2 separate regions of the Homo sapiens genome follow, and region 2 is linked to region 1. Evidence: fine-mapped expression QTL. A gene starts in region 1. The other region holds a variant in brackets. All regions are shown on one strand. Distances are between the middles of the regions. Region 1 holds the start of DNAH10OS (dynein axonemal heavy chain 10 opposite strand). Region 2 overlaps DNAH10 (dynein axonemal heavy chain 10).

What was found. PIP is the estimated chance that this variant, and not a neighbour inherited with it, causes the effect.
Region 2: its variant is the best candidate, but not a certain one, in a credible set for the expression of DNAH10OS in whole blood (TOPMed, PIP 0.62).

Annotation. Positions count from the first base shown.
Region 1 is chr12:123,931,188-123,942,809 of GRCh38, reverse strand. DNAH10OS (dynein axonemal heavy chain 10 opposite strand) reads left to right here and starts at 7,826. Exons shown (of 2, transcript NR_187476.1): 1 at 7,826-8,745. DNAH10 (dynein axonemal heavy chain 10) reads right to left here. Exons shown (of 79, transcript NM_001372106.1): 74 at 11,338-11,469; 75 at 10,963-11,174; 76 at 10,702-10,869; 77 at 9,299-9,479; 78 at 8,044-8,189; 79 at 7,096-7,475. The coding sequence ends at 7,329. CCDC92 (coiled-coil domain containing 92) reads left to right here. Exons shown (of 5, transcript NM_025140.3): 4 at 25-66; 5 at 4,980-7,184. The coding sequence ends at 5,752. RefSeq lists enhancers at 3,760-4,260, 4,261-4,761.
Region 2 is chr12:123,845,121-123,853,120 of GRCh38, reverse strand. DNAH10 (dynein axonemal heavy chain 10) reads right to left here. Exons shown (of 79, transcript NM_001372106.1): 31 at 7,252-7,521; 32 at 6,967-7,150; 33 at 5,026-5,160; 34 at 4,239-4,391; 35 at 2,045-2,233. Among named protein-coding and RNA genes, the nearest start is that of DNAH10OS, 86 kb to the left of the region's middle. The variant G/A (reference allele first, on the strand shown) is at 4,149.

The DNA.
Region 1 (11,622 bases):
TAATGTGTAACATTTCCCTTTTAGATTTAACATATGAGCTGACAGTCAAAAGTTCGGAACAGACAGGTAAGAACTCCTCCCCAGAAGTAAATGACAGTAGGTTTCCCTTTGTGGTACGTGTTGGTGCCGTTTTCACTAGTCACACACTTAGGAGAAAATGCTCTTGCTGGGAAGAGTTATGCGTGTGGCCTGAGCTCTCTAAGAGAAGATGAGAAGGATGTTTGGATCCCTCCGTGTTGCAAGTGGTTATTAGTGGGCAGGGGGATGAGTGATTTTGTTTTCTTTTGAATGACACATATATTTGGAATGCCTATTATATGTTTTTCTGATTTTCCTACAATGAACATGTGTTCCTTGTGTAATCAGGACATAAAAATAGACGTGAGTTAAACCCAAAAGGAGGAGTAACAGCAGCAGCAGCATTGGGCAGAACCGCCCCCGCTCCTCCGTGTCGCTGCCGCCTAGCATGGGCCTGGCACAGAGCAGCAGCTTGCTAAATGCTGGCGGGCGAGTGGTCACATTACTAGACAGCTCCCTGAGGATCTGGGGCTTTCTCTGGACTACAGCCCCAGAACCCTCCCCAAACCAGAATCCTCCAGGACCTCAGGAAACCCCAAAGGGCAGCTGCCTGCTGGCCGCCAGAGAAGAGACAGAAACCCAGGCCTTCCCAGGGCCCTCTGTGCCTGCTGCAAAGAGCCTGCTCCCTAAAACAGGGTGGGTGTTTGGAAAGTGCTGAATCCATGTTTGTGCAGAGACACCTGTTGGAAACGGGTTTATCACGTCGGGAAGGCAATGGATGGCTCAGCAAGGCTAGTTTACTTTCTGCAGAAAGGGTGCAACTCGCCAGCAGTCTTACCACGAGAGCACACTCAAACAAAGGAGACGAGGACATTTATAATCTTCATAACCTGATGCAATTGCCCTATGACTGTGTCCAGTTTCCATTGACTGGAATGGGACCTCACATTCTAAGCTTGACCCGATTGGCTAACAGCTTGAAACTTTCCTAAATAGGCAAAAGGGAAAGAGGACAAAGAAAAGAGGAAGCTAGTCATGAGAGGGTCAGGAGAGTTTCCAAATAAGGAAGAGCATGCACTATGGTCCAGGGCTCGCTCAGCCCTGCGCAGGCGTGCCGGGGCAAGGCGGAGCAGCTACACTGGAACATATATAGAGATATACATAGAGCAAGGAAATGACAAGCTCTTTATGGTTTCAAGAAACTTTGAAGAACTTCTCCATTCCCCACAATGCCTTTTTCTAAACAGGCCTCACAATGGCAGTTACTATTCATGAGAGTGTCCAGTTCCTTGTAAAAGACACAGACCATTTCCACCAAGCCTTAGTGGATTACCGAGCACTGATTTTTTTCCATTTGCATTGCTCATATTACAGCCTCCTGAGTGCGCCACCCAGGAGCCCAGACATCTTTTTGTCTGCGTGTGGTAGGGAAGGCGCCGTGGGCTTCTTGGGGTGGTGGAATGGGAGCCTGTCCTCAGAAGTCTCCCTGTGGAGGGATACCAGGGACCTCCCCCGAAGCCCTGGGACTGGGAGCTGGGCCTGTGGGAATGCAGAGGAACAGGATTTCAGCCTGACACTAGGGACCTCCAGCGTCCACACCTGCCAGCACTGAAGCCTTGGGAAAGGAGCTACCCGTGTCATGGAAGCCAGGGCGTCCTCGCTCCCTGTCCTCTCCTGGCCCAGGCTAATCTGAAGCAGCATAGTTTTGCCCTGTGGCCTCTCCAGTCACGGTTCTCAACCTGAGGTCCCAAGGCCACCTGCCCACCCACCCACCCACCTGATGTAGTACTCCCAGCAGCAGCAGGGTCTCACAGCAAGGGCTGTGTCTTAGGGGAGGCAGTTTCAAAAGCCTCTCAGGTGGTTCCAGTCGGGGCGTCTCCCCTCCCAGTGGTGAAAATCATTGTTTTACATTAGTGCACCCAAAACTGCCCAATTCCAAGCAGTTTCGGGACCCAGGGTACAGCATAGACTCTTGGCTTCCCTCCCCTGGGGGCTGTGACCCCAGAAGTCTGGGCGGGCCCAGGGAGTGCGCAGGTTTAGAAGCGTTGCAGTGCCCTGACGCTCGGGCAGGCTCAGCAGTGCAGCGTTTGGAGACCAGCAGCAGTTGGCTGCTGTCAGCTCAGTGTGCACCAAGCTTTCATGGGAAGACTGAAATTTCCAGAAAGGGGGTACGTACAGAGGAGGAGGTGGAGTGGAGCTTTCTATAAAGAGCAAGAAATTGGCAAAACAGGAGGTGCTGATTCCTGGGAAGGACAGTCACTGAAGCAGCTCTCCAGAGCTGGGGATGGAGGAGCAGTCGTACCAGCTCCTTCCCACAGGACGGCCCACTCAAGTCGGGGCCGGTAAACATCAGCCCGGAGCCAAGGCTGCACCCTGGAGGAGGAGGCAGCACAGCTAGATGACTCTCAAGGAAGGATGATGAGGAGGATGTCTATCCAGGAGGAGCTTCTCTCAGGATGCTGTGGCGAAAAGAACCAGAGTGATGCTTAATGAGCCCCAGATTTGGGCCTCTGCTCTGACTCGGAGGGGCTGTGTGGCCTTGGGCAGGTTCTTTGACATCTCTGAACCTGCATCTTCATCTGACAGGTGCCCCACAAATCCAAGTCCCCAGTCCGACCACCAGGGCCCTCTGCCTTTGTGGGCTGCCCCTCACAGGACATGAGCAAAGCCCAGGGACAGCCTTGTTCCTGAATGTTCCAAACGTCCATCAGCCTTTTGCAGCACTGCCTGGGGGAAGAAAAATCCCAGGATGCTCACAGCAGGCCAGGGATGTGGTTGAAGGTCTGAGGTTGCAGCCCTTCCTCGGAAGGAGCCCAAGGCCCACTGTCCACCCGAGTGTGGGCTGAAAGCAAAGGCCCTGCGACAGGCATGGGTTGTTGTCCCACAGGCCCTGGGGGAAGGACAGCGGGTACCAGGCCCAATGCCGTGCCCAGGTCAGCATTTCAGGTTGCAGGGGTTCAGCCCAGGTGGCTGGGCTCCTGGGTCTTACAGTGTCTACAGAGTCGTGTGTGTGTCTCTGTCCCTCTCTCTACCTCTGAAACTGTGTTTTAGGATCTATTTTCCTTTTGGCAAAAGAAGAAACCTCATGAAAGGTAGTACTGCATGCATCCTTTTTAGGGAGGTCATTTGCTGACATTATACCTGCACATACACACACAGACACATGGTTTTTAAAACTAGAAACTTGCAATGGTTCAACTTAAAATTTTTCAACTGCATGGGGCAATACCCATTCAGTACACTCCTCGACTTACCATGGATATGTCCAGATAAACCCATGGTAAGCTGAAAATATCGAAAACACACTTTTGACTTACGGTATTTTCAACTTACATTGGATTTTTCGGGACATGACCCCATGCTAAGTCGAGGAGCGCCCATCACCTGCAGCGAGCTTGTAACATGCAAGTGTCCTGCACAAGACCAGTCCAGTCAGCTGTGGGCCCTCAAAAGCTCAGAGTCTGGCGGCGGGACATGCTGCAGAGCTGCTGCTAGCTCAGGCAGGTGGGAAAATTCAAAGCAAGACAGACAGAAGCCCGGGAAAGACGTCCAGTGGCGTCCAGTGCCTAGGCAGGCCCTGGGTGGTGGAGTTGGTACAGGGAAACTGGGCGTGCAGGTCTGGAGTTAGGGCAAGGACAGAGGGTACAATAGAGACAGAACAAGAGGTGGTGGCTTGGGGAGAGTGATGGAAGCTTTGATTTATGTGGGAGCAGATAACATTCAGGACAGATTGAGGAACTGGAAGGCATCTGGCAGTTTGGGTTTTATTAGGCAGTGAGGAACCATTTTGAACAGAGGACAAGAATATTTAGGGGGTGACCAAGCTTCCTAAATACAGGATGGGCTGAAACGAAGACCAGAGAGGAGGTGGGACCAAGGCCGGCTGGAGGAGCAGGGAGGGGGCAGCACTGAGCAGCCAGCAGAAAGGCACAGTCAGGGAGGGGAGGCCAGGGATGGCGACTGCATCCAGTTTCCCTGGGAGAGTCAAGATGTGGGAAGCAGAGCAGCTATCTGGACTTGAGGGTGTGTCTGACGGACACTCACTTGGAGAAGTGGTGCTCAGGAGACACTGAATCGGGAGCTGATGCTCAAGTTGAATTCCAGACCAGCAAGGAAGAGTCTAGAAAGAACTTCCCAGGGGCCAGGCAAGGAGGATGGCCAGCCAGCCAGCGTTAGGAGGAGTAGGATGGTGACCCAGGGTTTAGAGCCAAGGGTGCTATGTGAGGTGACCAGGGACTGCAGGTCACCAGAAGAGCAGGAGAAGGAGGTGGCTGGTGTTTGCTGAAGGACTGGGTGAGGGCAGGCACCCAGGGACAGCAAAAGGAGGCAGAGGCCCGAAGTGTTAGGGCAGGGGCAGGGAGGGACCAAGGGTAAGAGCCACAGAGGCGAGACAGCTCACTCTCTGAGCAGGAAGTGGGAAAGAGTCTGTGTGTGTGTGTGTGTGAGAGAGACGGGGGTAGGGGGGTGAGAGAGGCGGCCAGCGGCAGAGCAAAGGTGACAGCCCCACACCTCTTCTCCTCTAAACATCAGAATTTTAATTCAATAGACATGGATAATTCTTTTTACATTTGAGTTTCAAAACAGTACTTTGAATGTAGCAGGCATTCCATAAATGCCATCTGAGCAGACAGAGGGATTTGCGGCCAGTTGAATCCTAAGTGTTTGCTGAGGTCTGATACTCTGCAATTGCCTGTTTTAAGTTCAGCATCTTTAAGGTTCAGAGACATTCTTTTATGCAGTAGGCCAGAGAACTAAGAGCCGGAAAGGGCCTCTGAGATGCCCCGATCTCCCCACCTCGGGGAGGGGAGGGGTCTTTCCAGAGCCCCCACAGCCCTGCCTTCTGCATGGCCCCCACAGCCTAGACAGGGCCCCCACCAGACAGGTCCGCCTGCCCCATAGGCCTCACCACTCGGCCTCAGTCTAATGAGTTCTTCACCTGCTTCCTCGGCTTATTCTTGTAGGAGACGGGACTTCTAAAAGCAGTGAATTAAAGAAAAGATGTGAAGAGCTGGAAGCCCAACTGAAAGTGAAAGAGAACGAAAATGCTGAGTTGTTGAAAGAACTGGAGCAGAAAAACGCGATGATCACAGTGCTGGAGAACACCATCAAGGAGCGAGAGAAGAAGTACCTGGAGGAGCTGAAGGCCAAGAGTCACAAGCTGACCCTGCTGTCTAGCGAGCTGGAGCAGCGGGCCAGCACCATCGCCTACCTGACCTCCCAGCTGCACGCCGCCAAGAAGAAGCTCATGAGCTCCAGCGGGACCTCAGATGCCAGCCCGTCAGGGAGCCCCGTGCTGGCCAGCTACAAGCCAGCGCCCCCCAAAGACAAGCTACCCGAAACGCCTCGCCGCCGCATGAAAAAGAGCCTCTCAGCCCCCTTGCACCCGGAATTTGAAGAGGTCTACAGATTCGGGGCAGAGAGCAGGAAACTCCTTTTGCGGGAACCAGTGGATGCTATGCCCGACCCCACCCCATTTCTGCTGGCTAGGGAGTCCGCCGAGGTCCACCTCATCAAAGAGAGGCCCCTCGTCATCCCCCCCATCGCCTCCGACCGAAGCGGCGAGCAGCACAGCCCGGCCCGCGAAAAGCCGCACAAGGCCCACGTCGGGGTGGCACATCGGATCCACCACGCCACCCCGCCGCAGGCCCAGCCCGAGGTGAAGACCCTGGCGGTCGACCAGGTGAACGGAGGCAAGGTGGTGAGGAAGCACTCAGGGACGGACAGAACTGTGTGAAGCCCGCCGTGCCCCACCCCGCGCTGTCCATGCACTGTGAGCACCACTGGGAAATCTCAGCCACACCTTTTCTGTTTAATCCCATGCATGCCAAACACTTTTCACACCTACCGACCCATTCTCCTTCTGCTTCTCTTGCCCTCTTCTTCACACCAAAATATGATCGTGTCCCTGCCGCAGAATATGTATTTCCTAATTGCTGTGGCCAAACGCCTGTGTGCCGAATCGCTTGCTTCTGATCCCGCTCCGTGTAACCTAAGTGCGCTGCAGGCAAAGCCCAGGCCACGGCTGCGTCACTACTGATGTTCACGATGCCACACAGTCACACACCTAATTCATTCTCAAGTCGGAGCAACACATACCAACCTTGACCTTATCCTCAAGCTCCAGGGCAGCCTGGCCGAGCAGCCCCTGCTCCCTCCTGGAGACCCTTGTCACCTCCCGAGCTCCTCCTGGAGACCCCTGTCACCTCCTGACCAACCTTTCCCAGGGCGGCACCGATCACCGAGCAGCCGTGCGTGTATCTCAAGGAACTAAATAAGATGACGCTACTCCTCATAGCACCACAACCTGAATGTGTGTTCATATTTTTTTGTTAGTTTTATCCAAAATGTTTAAGATCCCAACAAACTTTATTTTCTAAACCTGCCTTCCTTCTGTTTTGTGTCTTTTATTAAACAAACACCTGAAGGAGGGCTAGGAGACTGCAGGAGGGAGAGCAATCACAGGTCCCAGAAGCGACTCCGGCCTCCTCCCGGCCCAGAGCTAGTCCTTAGAATGTGCTGCGCTCCTGAGCTTCTGTGGGAAGCTGCTTTTGCCTCTGATGGCCCCTGCCCACTGTGCTGCCCGTGCTAGCCCCTCTCCTCCCTCATGGAGTGAAGCCACCCCTCACCTCCAGGTGGCCAGCCAGGGCTCCAGGCCAGCCTCATGGTGCACAGAGGGAAGGGGTGCCCAGTGACCACTGGTCCTGGAGGTTCTGTGTCCTTACCTGACCCCACACAGACCCAGGCAGGCTGGGGGTAGAAGCTCATGCAGGAACTAAACACTAAGCTCAACAACTTCACAGTCGCCGTAGCAGGTCAGAGCCAAAGAAGCTAGGGCCAGAGAGTTCTGGAAGGGGGAGAAGTGGCTCCAGGTGACTGGTCACTTCTGCTCTGTGCCCGACATCATCAGCCCTTCTTGCCAAAAAGGAGCATCTGCTGAAACAGACCTGGATCATCGAAAACACACCTTTGGAAATTACATTAGGATTCTCACTTGTGCCAATGCTATGTATGCCAGGCACTTTTGCCTAATCAAGTGTTTTCTCTGAGAAGGAAAAGAAAACTCCACACATCTTAAAATACTCTCCAATATTTACTTTTTGATTATATAAATTCCTTTTAAAAAGTAGTATTAAAAACAAAACCATTCAGGTTAATTTGTATGGAAAGAGATTTAAGTGGCTGATTTCAAATGAAAAATCAGTGTCAGTCCCCCTCCTGCCTCTTGAGAGGCCCCAAGAAATGACAGCAGACCCGATCACTCTGACAACCCCAGGCTCCGAATTCATTAAGCAGTTTTCTTCACCCAAAGGTTAATCAGAATTCAGGGTGAGGCATACTCCTTGCAGCACCCAGTGAGAAATGTGCCTCGTGGTAAAGAGATCAGCTTCAAAAACCAAGCCGACTCCCATGGCGTTCCTTCTCATGGAGGTGGTGTAGACGGGGGTCCGGAAAGTATTCTGCAAGGGAAAGGCAGGTGAGATGCCCCCACGGAGAGAGGGTGCAGAGGGATAAAGGCAGAGGTGCAGTGTAAGTCTTGACAGGCAGGGGCCCCTGTGCAAGACTGCACCTGAGAACACGCACAAGGCTGGGGCTGCTCAGGGCCACCCTCCGCCAGCTTCACGGGGACCTGGCTTCACACTGACACCCTGGTTAAAAGTGGGTCCTGGCCCAGGCAGAGCAGAAGACATCTGCTGTCCACACCAGCGGGAACCACTTTATGACTCAGGCAATGTCTGCAGCATTTTGCAAGAAGGGAGGGAGTCTCCCCTTGGTTAGTCTAGACCACAGGATCACAGCTTGAGCCTGACACCTCTGGAAGGACCGGCATCCACACACACATACAGCCGCGCCTTTTCCAGGAAGCAGCTATCCGTAGCTTTTATCACGGCTCCAAGACTCTCCCCAGCCCATAAAGCTTAGGCACCCCTGTTTTAAAAAGTAGGACTGTTGGAAACCACCTCAGCCATAACTACAGTCAGAAGAGGAAGGGCCCTGGTGTCAGAGAGGAGGGGCTGGGACCTTCACCTGCAGCTTGAGGCGATGGGCTTCAATGGGGATGATCTTCAGGATCGGCAGGTCCACAACCAGCACCTTGGGTTTGCTCTTGATAAGACATCCTTTTTCTATATCCCAGTCAGCACCTTCCAGGTACAGTCCTGAGACAAAGCATCCTAGGGACACAAGGCAGAGACTGGATACAACTGGAGCATGCACAGCCTGCCACGGAGTGGCTCTATCAGGCGCACACACAGCGACACACAGGCCACTGGCTGGCCTCCTCCCCAGCGCATTGGGGACAGCCCAGGCCCTTCTCCAGCATTTCTGTCCTGCCCACCTTCCCTCTGTGGAGGAGCAGCCCAGACAGGAGACCCTGTGGCCCTGCCCCATGGCCCAGAGAAATGGGTGTGGGGCGGTGGCCTCTCCCCCAGGAATCCTCATTCCTGGGGCATCAAGGCCCACGGACTTAGACCACCCTGGGCCCCCAGGCTAGAAAGATGCATGGTCCCAGAGTCAGAATGGGCACCATGGCAACCCCAGCTACCCTGTGAGCCGAAGTGGCTGGGGAGCAGGAAGTCGAAGCCTCACAGAGAAAGTGGTCTCCGGGGAGGAGGACCCAGCAGATGTGCAAAGAGAGGAACACACTCCTGTGGCCCCAGAGAGAGTGGTGGCCCGGACACCTGCCACCTCCCCTGCCACTGAGACCTGGAGAGTCCCTGCATCTTTACCGTAAGTCCCCAGTCCTTAAGCCATCTCAAAAGAGCTTTTGTTCCTTGCAGTTAAAAGAACTCTAAGACAACATGGACCCGGGGAAACAGCAGTTTCCAGCTCTCATTTGCACAGTCAGTAACCAATGTCTAAGGGACCTGAAGTTCTGGCATAATCAAAGAGTTCCAACCAAGTTAGTCCATGCTGCTCTGTGGCTCCCATGCCCCTGGCCCCGTCAGGGGTTACAAGAAAGCCACCTGATGGTTTTTGCAAGAGCTAATTCTGACCTAGGAGCCCACTTGCCATGAGCTAGCAGAGTGAACATGGTTCAGGTCTCCCCTGCCATAGACCCCAGGTCTCAACGGAGAAAGTGGAAGAGAAACTTCCGTATCCACCCTCAGAGGTGTTAAGACATGGGCAGTGCAGAGACACAGGAAATATTTGCAGCAGGCTGGCTTTCAAACATGGCCTGGCCCATTTAGGCCCACGCTATGCCTGTCCCTTTGAGTTGGAGGTGGTTCAGGGAGAGAAATCCTAAGTGAGAGGCTGTGGATCCCTAACGAGCTGACGGTACCTTGTCCCGCCCGCTCATTCACTTCATCTGCATCCTGGAACTTGGTCACTTGTGTGAACAAGGTGGAGCGGTCCAGTGGCCAGCCGTTCTTCCGGCAGGTGGCCTGCACCAGCGCCGTGAGGTAGGACTCAGGGATGTGCAGCCCCGAGAGCCACATCACGCTGGGCTCGCTCTCGGTCACCTGGAGAGAAGAGAGGACAAGTGCTGGGAGCCTGGGGCTGCCATCCAATGCCAGGTCAAAGCTGGCCTGGAAGTTTAGTTTATGATAAAAGACATATTTCACCTAAGTGGCAAAAGATGGCGTTGGCACAACTGGCCGCCTGTCTGAGAAAAACAATCTGGACTGCCACATTCCAGGTAGATCAAAGATTTAGATATAAAAATAAATAAAACCACAAAAGTACTGGGCCACATCTCCAATGAATGCTTTCATATCGTGGAGTAGGAAATACAAAGCCCAGGATAAAAAAGAAAAGCCTTGTAGGTTTGACTACGGAAAAATGTAAAGCTTTTCTGTGGAAAAAATACCGTAAGCAAAGTCAAGACTTATGACAAGCTTGGAGAAATACCTGCAACACTGGCAGACCAAGGGCTAATTTCTTTGATTTGCAAAGAGCTCTTAAACATCAATGAGAAAGATGGAGACCTCACTAAAAATGAAATCCAGATACAAAAGGACAATTCACAGAAAAACAAACACAAAATGTCTGTAAAGCATGCAAAATACGCTCAGACTCACCATAATTAAAGACATGCAAAACAATGAGATATTATTTTCACCTATCAGGGAGACAGTGATCCAAAATGTTAAGAACGCAGCATTGCAGCGGAGTGAGGAAAGAAGCACTCTCATAGACTGTGGTTTCAGCCTTTCTAAGAACCATCCAACAAGAGCTATCAAAATTTAAAATGCACAAGCTCTTTGATCCAACTCTTCCACTGTCAGAATTTACCCATGGAATATACCCCTATGCATATTCATATACATGTGCACCAGAATGTTATTTGTATTAGCAAAAAAAAAAAAAAAATGGTAACCACCGAAATGTAGGCAGTTACCATATTTTTAGGATACAGAAGGAGGAGAAAGGATATGAAACATTTGTACAATGGCATACTCTAAAAAAGAACGAGCTAGCTGTGTACTAATATGGAACAAGTGCCAAGATATACACTTAGATAAAATAATCGGGTATGTAAGAGTATGCTTCAAAGTCTTCAAAAGAAAAGGAAAAACAAAAGATACAGATAGGCTTGTAAGAATCTCAGACCATTTCCAGAGCACCCAATAAACTTTAACAGAGGTTACTGCTGGGCAATGGAAAGAGGGGATTGGGAGGTGGTTTGAGGAGTCTAGGCTGACACCTGAATCGGCAGAGAGGAGGCGGTGACGTGCCACTTACCCACAACATGTACTGGCTGAACCGCCGCAGGAAGTAGACCATCCAGTTTCCAAGGGACTTTAAGGTGTCAGGAGCAAGCCTTCTCCAGATATTAGGGATATGCCCGATAAAAAGAGACCTGGCCACATCATCTAACTCATTGCTCATTCCAACTTCTCCAGCCAAGGCCTATTTAGAATCAAGAGCAATCGGGCAGGACTCTATCAGAACCCCAGGTGCCACGTATCTAGGCAGTAATCTGCACATGAGAGACAGGCTCACCCTTTGAAGTTCAGCCAGAGACTTCGTCATCCGGACCACAAGCTTGTTGAAGCGTTCCAGTTCCTGCAGGAGCACCACCGAAGTGGGGGAGAGTCCTGTTCCGAGGCGCTTCCTCACCTGGTCCAAGTCAAAGACTTTGGGCATCTTGTTTTCTATTTCTTTGGCCACTTGGCCAATATAATCATCGCGGCTGATACCACTGCTGGATTCCCCTAAAACCAGGACACTTTTCAGAGAAAGCAAGGCATCCACGTGCAGAACCGGAGCCTCCTGAGCCTTCCAGTTCTGGGAAAGGCATCAGCAACGTGGGAGGGCTACAAGAAGCAATCGTAAAACCCCAATCAAACTAATGAAGTCCTCCTGAGTAGAGTTTACCTGTCTGAGGCTGCAGCTCCAGCAGGTGAGCCCACATGTCTCGAGCCGCCTGCGTGTAATAGCCAATCTCAGCGTTGGGGTGGAGACCAAACACTTCTGGCGTGTTGGCAAGCGGGAGGGCCTCGATGGCTTCTGCAATCACAGAGAACAACGGAGGTGGCACTGTCCAGCCACCTGTGCTTTCTCAGGGCCCACAGCCTCAAAGTCTCCAAGACATGCAAGACTAATTTCCACTGTTTAGAGGGTGACTTTTTTTTTTTTTGAGACAGGGTCTTAGTCACCCAG
Region 2 (8,000 bases), 88 kb after region 1:
AAACGGGGGCAGGTGTTCCAGTGCAGCTGCTCTACAAATAAGCAAATTCCATCTCTAACTTCCAGAAATACCAGGGTGGGTCCTTCATTTTTAAATATGGCAAATTGGGAACTAATTTGAAGAAACATCTGTGTTACCAAAATCTTCACTATCTTAATTTAAAGAACAGAACCATCTGTAGGAATCACACTCCAGAAATACATTGCTTCTTTATTTTGACCTAAACCTATTATTAAGGCTGTAACTGGGCCAAGCATAGTTGTTCATGCCTGTAATCCCAGCACTTTGGGACGCCAAGGTGGGTGGATCACCTGAGGTCAAGAGTTCAAGACCAGCCTAGCCAACATGGTGAAACCCTGTCTCTACTAAAAATATAAAAATTAGCCAGGCGTGGTGGCGCATGCCTATAATCCCAGCTACTTGGGAGGCTGAGGCAGGAGAATCCGCTTGAACCTGGGAGACAGAGGTTGCAGTGAGCTGAGATCACACCACTGCACTCCAACCTGGGTGACAGAGCAAGATTCCATCTCAAAAAAAAAAAAAAGGCTGTAAATGTCTTTGAGGACAAGTCAGCCACCTCATCTATGGCAAGGGTTCAAAACCCACAGGTCTCTAAGGCAAGTGTGGCAATTTTAGTCGTGAAAACTAGGAACAAGAGATCTCATCGTGCCAACTCAAAATCCTGACACGGTAATAGGCACCAAGAGCTTTCAATAAAAGACATATTGCAGAAACGCAATGTGACAACCCTCTATGTTAAAAGTATTCTCTATTTTGTAACTTTTCCAGAGCTTCTGGAAAGATCTTACGTATGTACATTTTATAGATAGCTTAAAAGAGGATAAAAGTTATCCATAAAGTTGTTTTTGAATCTACATATTCTCAAAGGCATTGTGCTGAGTGAAAGAAGCCCGTCTCAAAGGGTTCCATACTACATGTCTCCAGGTAGAGAACATTCTCAAAGTGACAAAATTACACTGACTGAAGAATAGATCAGGGGTTGCAGGAGTTAGGGTTGAGGGGAGAATGTGTCTAGTAAGCAGTAACATGAGGCTGGGTGCAGTGGCACAACCTGTAGTCCCAGCTACTCGGGAGGCTGAGGTGGGAGGATTACTGGAGCCCAGAAGTTCGAGACCAGCCTGGGCTGTAGAGACCCTGTCTCTACAAAAAATAAGCAAGATTAGCCAGGTGTGATGGCATCTGCCTGTGGTCCCAAATACTCAGGAGGCTGAGGCAGGAAGATCACTTGAGCCCAGGAGTTTGAGGCTGCAGTGAGCTGTGATCCCACCACTGCACTCCAGCCTGGGTGACAGAGTAAGACCCTGTCTCTCTTCTTTGTGGTCGTGGTGATGGAATAGTTCTGTATCCTGATGTGGTGACGGCCACTCCCATCCACATGTGATAAAACGTCATAGAACTAACTACACGCACACGCCATAGAGAGAATGTGAAACCTGGTGAAATCCACACAACGTCTACACCTGAGTTAATGGCACTTGTGCCAACACCAACTCCCTGGTTTGGGCAATGGACTGTGGCTATGTGAGATGTTCTCATGGGGAAGGGGCACCTGGAAAGTCCGTGCTACTATTGTTGCAACCTCTTGTGCATCTTACATTATTCCAAAATTAAAAGTTATAATTTAAAAAGAGGTGGGGGAGGAAGAAGAGAGACACAGCAGAAAAAAAAAACAAAAATCAAAGAGCCACACGGAGCTGACACATCCTAGGTCCCCAGTCTGGAAGAGCCACATGGAGCTGACACATCCTAGGTCCCCAGTCTGGAAGAGCCACATGGAGCTAACACATCCTAGGTCCCCAGTCTGGAAGACCCACATGGAACTAACACATCCTAGGTCCCGTCTGGAAGAGCCACACGGAGCTAACACATCCTAGGTCCCATCTGGAAGAGCCACATGGAGCTGACACATCCTAGGTCCCGTCTGGAAGAGCCACACGGAGCTAACGCGTCCTAGGTCCCCAGTCTGGAAGCAGACCCGGGTGAAGTCTGCACTGCACGACCTGGCGCTGCCAAGGCCCCCCACCTTGGCCTCCAGGAAGCCCTCAGAGAAGAGCATGATCTCACAGATCTGCTGCAGGTCGGGCACGATCACGACCACAGGCCTGAACAGCGCCTTCACCGACTCGGGCAGCTCCGTGCGGCCTGCGTAGCCGGGGTTCATGGTGATGAAGATGCCCATGCGGGAGTCCAGGGAAATCTCCTGCCCTTCAAACTGGAGGGCAAGAAGGAAGAAAGAAAGAAGCAGTTAGGTGGCCCGGCCGGCCAGCCCCTTGGAAAGGGGGCCTGCGGCGAGCTGCGTGGCGATTCATTTTCATGGTATGAGGCTGACAACACCACTTGTCTCTTTTTCCCTCCCCGGTGTTCAATGCAGGGCCCCCCTCGCTGAAGGCCTTGGGGAGGGCAGGTCTCAGTGGAACCCCAAACTCAGACCTGAACCCAGGGCACTACCTTGGAGAAGGGGCCCAGGTTGGCGAAGCACAGAGTCTGGGGCTGATACAAGAAGCTGTGTGACCCTCAGCAGGTCACTTAACCTCTCTGAGTCTCAGTTTATTTTTCTGCACAACAGAAATGCAACCCACCTCGTGGCACGGCTGTGGCGATGAAAGGAGACAGCCCAGGTTGGGAGCGCCCAGCCCACCACCTCACACAGCGCCGGCTTCCATTCCTCTCACCTGGCTTTGCACCTTCTGCGGGTGCCTGGACTTCATGCAGTCACTCCTGCCTAAAGAATCCCACCTCAAACCCCTCAAGAAACCAGTCTTCATTCCTCTGGTTGCCCCAGGTACCAACAAACCACGGAAATCCCTATATTCTTAGCCTTTTTAGCTGAAGGTTGAGTCCGGTCGTCTCTCGGTGAAGTTTTCTATTTTATTTTTTTTGATTGTCCACCAGCCAGGCAGAGGACAGAAAATTTTTGTTGTTAGGAGGCACAGTCTGCATCACCAACGAGAGGGCAGCCCGGAAGACAGCCAGCCTCCCCCAAAACAAGGCCACTGCCTTGACTCATAGGTCGGCCCTGAGACCATCCCTAGCCTCAGTATCCCACAAGAGGCCCAGATGGCCCAGATGGCCCAGGGGGAAGAGCAGATAGCTGCTGCCTCCTGGCTCTGAGAAACACAGCTTCTGGAAATCTATATACATTGCAGGTTAATTCCCTCTCTCGGGAGCAGTCAGCTCAGCCCCAAAAATCCCTCAAAAGAACTCATCAAAGGGAAATCTATCCAGACCCTTTACTGGAATCCTGAAAATATTGAACAGTCTCCAGCTGACACAATCTCTTAACAGTGAGCCCTGCCAAGATCTGAGGAGGACGCATGTGAGATGACAGGGCCACCAGCTCAAGCTGAATTTTCATCCTGGAATGGGGCTCTAAAGGATGTATAGGAGTTTTCCAGTGAAGGGAAGAAGGGACAATTCCACTCAGATGGGGACACATGTGGTGTCACAAGGCATGGTATGACTGTGGAGCAAGTGGCTTAGTGACAAGTGTGCAGGGCATGGAGGGGGGAGGACAGAGGCAGAAGGACAGCAAGGGACCCAGAAGACCCCGGTGTAGGGAAATGGCCCACCCACGCTGGTCCTGTGTTTTCAGAGAATCCCCTTCTGGGCCACCTAGATTACATAATAAGATCATGTTTCTCCAAATTTGGATCCAGCTTAATCTGGTGTAATTTAATGCAGACTTCTCAAACTCAAGTCTGCAAACATATTCTTTGGCAGAGAGAAATTGGTGAATTCTCAACAATTGTTTTAAAATTCTGCCTTCTCACTTTGATAACCTTGCAAATCCTGCTTGTTATGATGCCGTAACTTCACAAGGTATGAAGGCAAAATTTCTTGTTCACTGTGATAATGATTGCAAGGAACATTCGCTTTCTAAGTCAGGTTTTCTCAAACTTGGGAAGTCGCCAAGAATATTGTTTCCTTTCTAGGGGACCCTGCACATCACTTATTTGAGAACTCTGCCCCACGCCCATTCATAACTATTGGTTCTGTGTCTGGAGTCAGTGTGAAGTCCTTGGACTATTACAAACCTTATCATCAATGATGATAATTTTGGAAACCCAATCATCTCAATTGGAAAAACCAACAGATCTTCTACAGGAAGCCTGGTCTGGAGTGTCAAC[G/A]GCCCAGAAACTGACGCTACAGAGGAAGCTTACCATACTTGGCAAACTTCCATCCTAGGGACATGGTCCCGGGGGCTTCATGTGTCTCACCTGGAACGTGGTTAACTGATGGATCAGAGCATTTCGGATCGTCTGGATCTGGGAGGAGATCACGGAGAGCACAGAAGCATCGATTCGATTAAACTCATCAAAGCAGCCCCAAGCCCCGCACTGTGCCAGGCCAGAGAAAATCTTCCCCACGGCCTAGGAAGAAAGACATGTCAGGACAAGGGCAATTTTCATCTTTAAAACTGCAAGCAACACATTTATGGATATATTTTCTAAATTAAAGCAAACAATGAGATCACTGATTGGCAGAGAAGCAGGTGACCAGCCACTTGACTAGTGGATTTTTCTGGCAGGACTTCCAAGGCCCCTCATGGGCTGGCTCCTACTTGGGATTTTACAAATCCAGATTTTTGTGTAAAACTCCATTTCTCTTCTCTTCTCTTGAAATGTGGGAAAATCTAGCAATGCTGGGTCCACTTTCCCAAATGGTGATTATGAACCAAAGCTGGACGGGCACCCTCTTTAGATGGACTTTTGCTCTCCAGTTAGCCACAGATCCCACCACTCTCTTGTCTGCTGGCCGCTTTACTCACGTACATTATCAACCTGACCCTACTAGGGTAGTGAATCCGGGACTCTTGCTCTACATCCTGCTAACAAAGCAGGGTCTTTAAGCAGACACACTTAGGTTCTGGGGCTGTGGTGGTGGAAGGTTTTCTACTAGCTTCTTCCACTGTCGCCATGTCAAAGACTAGGAGGTGAAATGCCATGTCCTGCTTTAAGCTCTCTGCCTAATGAGCCAGTACCAAAGGTGACAGCCAGGCCTTACCCTGTAATCCATGCCTTCGCCACAGTTGGTGACAACACAGAGCAAGCCCAAGGCTTTCGCCAGGTCCTTGGTGGTCTCGGTTTTGCCGGTTCCTGCTGGGCCGGCGGGGGCCCCACCTAGATACATGGACAGCGCCTGTTATAAGCCAAATGCAAAACATATGTTTTCTGGTGCACAGAAGGAAGTGGGTGTCATTTCCAAATTCATCACTGTGACTATAGGTGCAGAATAGAGAAAGAATGTGGTGTTTGCTTTCATGTGTCAACTTGACTGGGCCACAGGATGCCCAGGTAGCTGGCTAAACATTATTTCTGGGAGTGTCCATGAGTGTGTTTCAGGAAGAGATTAGCATTTGAGAAAAGCAGATGACCCTCCCCAAAGTGGGTGGGCCTCATCTAATCCATTAAAGACTGAACAGAACAGAAGGATGGAGGGAGGTTACATTGGTGCTGCCTGATCATCTAATCCATTGAAGACTGAACAGAACAGAAGGATGGAGGGAGGTTACACTGGTGCTGCCTGACTGACTGAGCCAGGGCACTGGGCTTCTACCCTTGGCACTTCGGGTTCTCAGGCCCTCAGACCCAGACACGAGTCTACACTATTGGCTCTCTCACTGTCAGAACTTCAAATGCTACTGGCCTTCCTGGTCCTCCAGCTTGCAGATGGCAGATTGTGAGAGTAATCAGACCCTATCATCACATGAGTCAATACCTCATAATAAATCTCCTCCTAAATATCCAGATAGATAGATAGATAGATAGATAGATAGATAGATAGATAGATAAAATAGATGATCGAGATGATAAATAGACAGGATGGATGGATGGATAGATAGATAGATAGATAGATAGATAGATAGATAGATAGATAGATAATAGGATGGATGGATGGATAGATACATGGATGGATGGATGGATGGATGGATGGATGGATGGATGGATGGATGGATATGTAGATGGATGGATGCACGGATGGATGGATAAGATAGATAGATTAGATAGATAGATAGATACACAGACAGACAGACAGCCATCCAGCTAGCTAGCTATGTCCTATTGGTTCTATTTCTCTGTGGAACCCTAACCAATACAGATAAGATGACACTCTTTTTCTCAAAAACAAAGGACTTTATCACTCACAGCACAGGAGGCAGCAGGGGCTTCCTGTTCTCACTCATTCCCTTTATCCTTGTCCCCCCAAATCCCATGGTGTGATGTGGAGACGGGCCCAGGTGCATGCCACATCCACAGTGGGTATGAGTCACAGCTGAGAAACTGTGAGCCTAAGAGACCACCAATGTAGCCAGGTGCAGCAGTGAATGCTATAGTCCTAGCTACTCAGGAGGCCAAGGTGGGAGGATCACTTGAGGCCAGGAGTTCAAGGCAAGCCTGGGCAACATATCAAGACCTCATCTCTAATTTAAAAAAAGAAAACTAGCAAGCATCTGACAAACAGTCTTGGGGGTTGCTTGCAAACCTTCCCAAGCTCTGCCTGGATGGAAGTGTTATCTTCATTTCCTGTACAACAAACAAGTTTACCCTCTGTCCTGGAGGGAGACACTATCTCTATCATCCAAGGCCGTTCACTTGAACGGATATATTCTGGAATAAAAGCTGTCACAAGACGTGCAAAACCACATCACACTTGCCCTAACAGTCACCACCTTTGACATTCCTGCATTTTCGCATTGGCCTCTACCAATACCCCTGACACACCATTACCTAGGGACCAGTGTACCAGTGGCTAAGCACGGCCACACTTACATGCCAATCCCAAATGGTGACAATCTGGTCACATCCCAAATGGAAAAGCTTTTCGAGATTTCAAAGCAATGATCTCCCCTGCTATTTCAATCACTGCAGTCATCACACCTCAAGCTTAGAGAAAATGCCCCGCCCCAAGGTAAGTGGTAACCACAAGTGCCAGGCTGGCAGTCACCTGGGTGAGCGTCAGGTAAATCCGATCGGTGAGGGGCGTGATGACCAGCCTGCCGTTCAGGCCCATGTACTCGTAGCCGTAGCCAAAGGTTCCCGTGCACTGGCGGATGTTCAGCTCATCCGGCTCCCGGTCCCAATAAAACCGCAACTGACTTTCCCAGTCAAACTCTCGGGCCTCCAGGATACTGGACGGCAAGAAAGGTGGAGGAAGTGGAAACCGTTGAGACAGATCAGCGGACCACAAAGGGTCCCTTTTGAAATGCCAGTGACCCCGGAAAATGCTCACCTGCCTCTTATGAAAGAATCAACTATGTCTCTGGCATGCACATCAATGATGAGAACAGTGTTGTATTTTTTCCTGTCGTTTTTGCTTAGCGGCATGGTGATGCGCGTTACCAACTCATCGATCTGCCGGTGCATTTTCCTGCCATAGTTCTTCATGGCCTGCTTCTCCCCTTTTTGCGCTTTGTGGAAGACGTCTTCCACCTCCCAGGTCCACCACACCTGGCTAGCGGCCAGCACCACCATGCCCTGGTACAGGAGCATCCAGTCGACTCTGCAGAAAACGCACACCTGTAAGAGGCTCTGATCAATCCGGGGACTGGTACCCAAAACAGTCCCTTCAGGAATTTATTTCTTTGATCTGGAATAGGGAGGGCAAAGTAAAGGTTTTAGGTAAGCAAGTGCCTGTATTTGTTTACCTAAGTAAGTCAGAGGAGTAAGACTTAGGTGAGAGTAAGATGTTACCTATCTCCGACTAGGTAGTAAAATTCCAGGCCGAGGGTGCCTCTCTCCACAAAAAATGTTGCAGGTACCTGACTGCACAGAAAGATGCCAGATCACTTTTTAAATGTTTGGGGCCAGTCGTGGTAGCTCACGCCTGTAAACCCAACACTTTGGGAGGCCAAGGAAGAGGATCACTTGAAGCCAGGAGTTCAAGACTAGCCTGGGCAACATAGCAAAACCCTATCTCTACAAAAAATAAATTAAAAACTAGCCAGGCATAATGACGCATGCCTGTAGTCCCAGCTACTC